Linked DNA regions of Homo sapiens. The protein of the gene in region 2 interacts with the protein of the main gene of each other region in a biochemical or structural test. Each region holds a gene or a part of one and is shown on either strand. Other genes may lie near its edges.

What was found. Proteins that work in one complex are often made in the same cells at the same time.
Region 1: the proteins of PRKD1 (region 2) and BTK form a complex in vitro, tested with the Homo sapiens proteins (one study listed by BioGRID).

Annotation. Positions count from the first base shown.
Region 1 is NC_000023.11:101,383,392-101,387,413, forward strand, and holds the start of BTK (tyrosine-protein kinase BTK), read right to left. Parts: upstream 2,801-4,022; 5' UTR 2,671-2,800; intron 1-2,670. UniProt on the Homo sapiens protein: Non-receptor tyrosine kinase indispensable for B lymphocyte development, differentiation and signaling. Binding of antigen to the B-cell antigen receptor (BCR) triggers signaling that ultimately leads to B-cell activation.
Region 2 is NC_000014.9:29,595,848-29,599,347, reverse strand, and holds part of PRKD1 (serine/threonine-protein kinase D1), read left to right. Parts: intron 1-222; coding exon 223-321; intron 322-1,589; coding exon 1,590-1,857; intron 1,858-1,871; exon of another isoform or gene 1,872-3,500.

The DNA.
Region 1 (4,022 bases), on a different chromosome or scaffold from region 2:
ATACATACTGCCAAAATAGTTTCCAGAAACATTGTCCCAATTTCAGTTCCAAATAGTTTTAGAGAGCCCCCTTTCTCATTATCCTTATCTCTTTTCTGGTCCATTTCTAATCATTTTTAAAACTCTGGTTTTACTGCAGACAAATCTTTTTTTTTTTTCATTGAGTCAATGATCTTAAACTCCAGTATATTCCAACTTCCAGCTTGTCTAAAACTTAACTTCTCTTGACTCTAGAATTTCCTTCTTCTAGGGTGAGCTAACAGACTACAGTTTGTTTTCAGTTCAGGGAGGTAGGGCAGTGAGAGGAGCTTCTCCTTGAGATTCAAATAACCAATATAATCCTAAAGACATCTTGTGAGAACTTTCTAAGAGCGGAGAGAAGAGCCTGGTATTAAAGCTTCTGGGTTTCCAATGCTCTCAGATTGCCCTCAGCCACTGCACATGAATCTCCATAGAAACTGAAAGTCACACGTGGCCCAATTGTTTCAGGGTCCTCAGAGGAGTTCTCCCTCCTCCTTCCCCTCCCCAGATGGCTTCATGCATAACCAAGTAGCTTTGGAGTCAAATATGTCAAGGCCTCTTTTCTAGCTTCTTGCTGAGCACTGTGTCACTGAAAATTCTAGTTCTTCCTTATTTTCAGTAGTTAGCAATCAGATCTCAGCAATCAGATCATTGTGGGTGTAGAAGGGGGTATCTGATAACTCTTTGGAGAACGCCCAAACTTTGGTTTTCGAAAGCTGTATCTTCCCTTTATACCTAAGTCACTTCCTGATATGGGTCTAGTCCACTGAAAGGAAACTCTATAGGAAATTTGCTCAAATGGAAATAGCAAATCATAGTGATAATTTAAAATTGCACCAATCCCCCATAACTGGATGGAAAGTTACATTAGTTCGCACCATAAGGAGTTTACAAAGAATTCCAGGGTGGGTGCGGTGGCTCACGCCTGTAATCCTAGCACTTTGGGAGGCCCAAGCAGGCAGATCACCTGAGGTTGGGAGTTCGAGACCAGCCTGACCAACATGGAGAAACCCCGTCTCTACTAGAAATACAAAATTAGCTGGGCGTGGTGGCACATGCCTGTAATCCCAGCTACTTGGGAGGCTGAGGCAGGAGAATTGTTTGAACCCGGGAGGCGGAGGTTGCGGTGAGCTGAGATCCCGAGATCGTGCCATTGCACTCCAGCCTGGGCAGCAAGAGTGAAACTCCGTGTCAAAAAAAAAAAAAAAAAATTCCAAACAAAAATATCAATAGCCATACGCAATGGAAATTTGGACTTCAACACAAGCAAGCAGTTTAAATAGTTTGAATATAAAAGGAGTCAGAATAGACAGGACAAGCCCTAAGGGACACTGTTTGGGTATAATGCTTTAGGTTGCCATGAGTATTTGCATTTTGTGGCTTATTTGGAAAGTGACATTATTTTATCAAATAACTGAGGCTCCAGAGAGGCTGGAGTCTGGGCAACTTATCCAAGGATGTCTTGATTGGGGTCACCAATCACTTTTATTCTAAATGTCATATTATTTGCTCTAGGTAGGCCCTCTGGGGGACATTGGCAGGTCTGAGGCAGAGTAAAAATTATAGCAAATACTGAGATCCAGCACTTACTATTGCCAGGCCCTGTTTTAAAAGCTTTACATGTATTTGCACATTTACTGCTCACAACCACCTTATGGGGAAGGTGCTAGGCAGGCAGGGAGGAGGAAATGGAAAGGGAAAGGAAAAGGGAAAAGAGCGGGGGAAGAAAGGAGCAAGAAAAAGTCAATGCAATTCGGCAATTATTTGTTAAGTGCTAACTGTATGTCAGGGTCTGGTAATCAACAGAACAGAGGAGGGTATAATGAAGAGGGGATATAGGTAGAGAAAAGAGGATGAGTGGGAAGAGGAGGAGGTTGGAGAGGAGGAAAGGAAAGGAGAAATAATGAAGACAAGAGAAAAGCAAGCCATGCACATGGAGGGCAATGGTAAGAGGAGAAACCTTTGCCACAACCTCAAGGGTTGGCCGCACTGTCTGGGCTGAGGCAGAGGCTGCTTTCTCCTGGCCCAGTCTTTTACCCATTGTTACCACGAGGTTGGCACAGCTTCCACACAGTCCTTTAATAAGCCAGCTCTGACCCTGGCGACATTTGGCCTGGTACAGCTCAAGGCAGGTAGCCTACACCCTGGCCTAGCCAGGCCTTTCCCTAGCTCACAAAGGTCAACTTCATAACGTGGAGCGTGAGCTTTTACCATGTTCTCAGAGAATCTGCCTCTTAGTATTTCTTTTTCTAAAGGCTTCATTGACCCATGTATCCCTATTGAGTCTTCAAGCACTATTTGACAGAAGGGCTTGTTTTTATCTGACTGCTCCCTGCAATATTACTTTTCCACTAAGTTTGCCAGAGGTACCCCTTTCTAACATTTGCTACCTGTTCGGATGGTCACCTCATGTCACATTTTTCTCTTCCTGTTCCGCCCACCCTCAGCCCTTGTCGGAAAGGACCCTTTCGGCCTCTCTAATCACCAGAAGGGACTGCCAGGGCCTTGTGCTGATGACACTCCCACCCTCCGTCAGCCTCCTCCACTAGCTGATAAATGGCACCAGCCATGCTGTCTCTCTGGTTTTTAGGGGTCCCAAGCAAGGTACATTGCTGCTGCTGCCCAGCCCCTGCCATACCCCAGACCCACCTCAGTCCTGACTTAATGCAGGTAGCTTCCCAGATGCATTGAGATGCCAGGACTTGGAAGGTGGGACTCGATCGCAGCAGACACTGGCCCTGGAGACATATTCTTACAGTCCAGAGAGGAAGGACAGTCTGAGCAAACCCCACCCTTTCACAGCCACTCAGTTCCCTTTTTTTGCTTCCTGACCTAAACCAATGTCTTTTTTTCTTCTCAGCAGCATGCTATCTGGTTCCCTGCTGCCGTCCCTATTCCACCCCCTCAACTGTCCCCGCCCTTCATTTGCTTGGGACCTCTGACACTACTATCTTGAGTCTATCTTTGAAAGAACCTTTCTCAACATGACTGGGGCCACTGAGACTCTAGATGGGGCTGGCCTGAGCAGACAGGTCATCAAGCTATCCTCCCAGAGGTAAAGGGACAACATACCTAAAGTACTATGAAGACAGTCAGCACAGGGAGAGGGGCTTACAGGAAAGAGGAGAGATGCTGGGGGCTGGCAGACACAGAGCAAAGAGACTGGCCAGGAAGAGCGTTTTTCGAGTCTCCTGTCCTCCGGGGCAGAGGAGTCTCAGGGACACACAGTTGAACTTGATAGTGAAGGGACCCCAAAGGACAAAACAAGACAGAGGTAGAGACAAGACTTCCCCGTGCTGAGTCATTTTCTAAGAAAGCATTTTTCCCCTACAGATAAAAATGTCGGAATATAAGCCCACAGAAATACTTGTGCCCTTCCCCATTTTCTGTGGATGTTGACTTTCTCCATTTAAGATTTGGCCTCAGGGATTAACTCTCAATGTCCACCTTTCTCTTGAGTCCTGTAAACCGGTAAAGCAGACTAGGTATGTCACTTGAAGCCTGGAGGTTTTCTCAGGGGCCCCCTACATTATGCTCCAACTGCAATGATTCCCCCAGGGATTCTCCTAGGAAATGCAGCCAGTATTGAATGCAGACCATGATGGTGGAGCCCCTGCTGACTGATCTGCCTGCCCACCTTGACACCTCGGGCACTGCCATATTTCCTTGCCCCAAGGCACTGTATCCTAATGTAGAAACAGATCACAGGTCCCACTACAATTTCATCCGAAGTTTTAAGTCAACAGGACCTTATTTTTTTTTCTTTATTTTGTCTAAAAAACAAACAAACAAGCAAACAAAAAAAATGGGGTATATGTGCAGAAGGTGCAAGTTTGTTACATAGGTATATGTGTGACATGGTGATTTGCTGCACCTATTGACCCATCCTCTAAGATCCCTCCCCTCACCCCCAAGCCCCAACAGGCCCTGGGACCTTTTTTTTTTTTTTTTTTTTTTGAGACAGGGTCTTGCTCTGAAGCCCAGGTTGGAGTGCAGTGGCG
Region 2 (3,500 bases):
CTTTTATCTACATCTGTCTTGGCCGCTGTATGAATACCATCATATGGTAATTTTTTCATTGAAATTTCTTTAGAAACCTATGTTAATCTAGCTCATTTCAGTGTCTTTAACATAAAGAAATTTGAATGTCCATTGTCAGTTTTTTTTCTTGGCCTTTTAACTGGTAGAAGACATTTTGAAATTAATAAACTGGAATGAAATTTTGGTGATTCTTCTTTACAGATACTCGTGGCTTTGCGGCACCTTCATTTTAAAAATATCGTTCACTGTGACCTCAAACCAGAAAATGTGTTGCTAGCCTCAGCTGATCCTTTTCCTCAGGCAAGTATAAAAGCCTCTCTCAGCAAAAAGCCAGTTGGAAGCATTGCTAGCTTCCATGTAGCATCTTGTCACCTTCCATTTTTCCCTTAAAACCTTTATTTGTTTCAAGTGTTTTCTATCCATTTTTATTCATTTGTTACTTTGGGACTATGGCCTTGTTACTCTGGCCTTTTGGTGAAGCATGCCTTAATTATACACAAAAGTGCCTTCTCATTCTGCCTTTTGGCTTTTCCGGAAGTGGCCTGAGAGTGACAACACTTGAGAGTCCCAGAGATGTTACCTGCTCATTAATGGGCAAGATATTAAACCTCACTGTTGTTCTCAAGGACAAGGGCAAAACTTTTTTCCTTTCCTCAACTTAGAGAGTGGGAAACCAGCTATCTCCGCAGGGAATTATAGGTCTGAAGTGACTTGACTGATGTGACTGTCCTGCCTTGCTTCCCTAACACCTTCCGGTCCTGCCTATATATGTGCCAGTGCAGAGCTAATTTTGAGGATTATTGTGGATGACATGACACATCTCTGTACTTATCCTTCATCTTCTTCTCATAATAAGCGCTTGAGTGAAGGTCATCACTTCCCAGATTTGCATAACGCTTTCCTGCCTTGTATACAATATTACCCACTTCTGAGTACACTTGTCTTCATATTTGTCTCTCGGTTTTTGGAGGAGGGAGACTGTTTTTATTTTTTCATTTATTTTTATTTTATTTTATTTTATTTTATTTTATTTTATTTTATTTTATTTTATTTTAGACAGAGCACTCTGTTGCCCCAGGCTGGAGTGGAATGGTGCAGTCTCAGCTCACTGCAACCTCTGCCTCCCAGACTCAATCAATCCTCTCACCTCAGCCTCTCGAATAGCTGGGACTATAGCTGCACACCACTACGCCGGGCTAATTTTTTAATTTTTTGTAGAGATGGGGGTCTCACTATGTGCCTAGACTGGTCTTGAACTCCTGTCCTCAAGCAATCCTCCTGCCTCAGCCTCCCAAAATGTTAGAATTACAGGCATGAGCCACTGCACCCTGCCAAGGGAGACTGTTTAGATGATATTTTTATGAATGAAAACATACTTTTGTATCACTACATAAACCACTGTCTTCAAATACCTAAAATGGAAAATAGCTATTACTTTAAGAAATCCATATCATTTAATGTAAAGGTAAAGTATTTAAAATATTATGGTTGTATCTGGTGAATCTGAACTAAGACACACAGACACACAATTGTGAACGGAGTATTTCTGCAAATCCTTTCATCAACAGGTGAAACTTTGTGATTTTGGTTTTGCCCGGATCATTGGAGAGAAGTCTTTCCGGAGGTCAGTGGTGGGTACCCCCGCTTACCTGGCTCCTGAGGTCCTAAGGAACAAGGGCTACAATCGCTCTCTAGACATGTGGTCTGTTGGGGTCATCATCTATGTAAGCCTAAGCGGCACATTCCCATTTAATGAAGATGAAGACATACACGACCAAATTCAGAATGCAGCTTTCATGTATCCACCAAATCCCTGGAAGGAAATATCTCATGAAGGTAATATCTTCCATTCAAAAATGATAATAATCTAATCCTTATTTGTTTATGTTATTAATTTAAATTAATTTAATTGTAAATTATTAACTTAATACATGCTCATTGTAAAGTGCCCACCAGAGTGGAGACACAAAGACACGAATTAATTTGGGTGGGACACATACACATAACAGAAATTGGGTTATATATATTAAGAAGTAAGTGAACAACCAGAGAGAATGTATTTTGGTACATTTCATTAGAACTTATAAATACTTATACCTTAATATAATAGTAATAATGAATTATTAGTAAGGGCTTACTTATATGTGCCTAGTTCTGTGTTAAAAACTTTTAAACTATTATCAACACAAGAATGTTATGACATTGATATTTTAATGATCATATAACATATGTTAGTATACCAAGTTCTTTGTCTACTGGTTTTCTTTGTGTGGCATTAAAATATGTATAATATTTTACTTGGCCATTCCCCTGGAATTTTTAGGTTATTTCTCTATGTTTAGTATTAGAACATCCTGATGTATCATTCCTATATATATCTCTGATGATTTCTTTAGAATAGATTACCTTGACAGTGTTGCATTGTTTAGAGTTATATTCTTAATAAATATTTCCTTCCTCTTAAAGGACAAAAGATTGTTTAAAAGAAATTGCAGGGGCTGACAGGGCAGAGAAAGTGACTCATTCAGTACTTCGGAAAGGAGTTCCTCCTTTAACATACATTGGAGTGTATTTAATTCTCATAAAAATTCTATAAGATAGGTGTTACTATGATGGCTATATTTCAAGTGTGGATCACGAGGTCAGAGGTTCAAGATCAGCTTGGCCAATAGGGTGATACCCCATCTCTACTAAAAAATACAAAAATTAGCTGAGCGTGGTGGCACGTGCCTGTAGTCCCTGCTACTCAGGAGGCTGAGGCAGGAGAAGCGCTTGAACCAGGGAGGTGCAGGTTGCAATGAGCTGAGATTGCACCACTGCACTCTAGCCTGGGCAACAGAGTAAGACTCCATCTCAAAAAAAAAGAAGTGACACCACTGGTCAAAATACAAAGCTAGTAAGTAGCAGGGGCATAATTCTTACCCAGGTAGTCTGAACATACTTTTTTTCAGTACTAGCCCTACGTCTTTTCTAGTTTACAGGCAATATCTAGTTCTAGGTTCATTCTGTTTGTTCAGATGTTCACCATGTGAAAAGGCTAGTACATTTGTAAACATCTCTTATGTGATGCCTGTTACTGCATATGTTGGTATAGAAATGAGAAAAGAATGTACAAACCGCTTAGGAGAAATTAAGTTATTAGACTGCTATTGGTATTAAATGACAAGAGCTATCCATTATCAGAGCTTTAAGTTACCATTAGCAACAACCTTTAACATCCTCTAATTAGTTGTAAATCATAGGTGGATGGATATATCTTAAAGGAACCTGTGGCCTACAAAAGAGCTATCATGTGTGCCAAAGGAATAATTAAATATTTTTCATAATTCAACAAAGATGAAAAGTAAAGTGTAATTAAGTTTCTTTCCCAGGAGACAGAGAGAATTATCAAATAACCTTGTGACCAGTACCCTTGTTAGGAAACATTACATCTAAATACAGCTAACCATTATGCTTGATATTGCTCATCTAGAAATCCA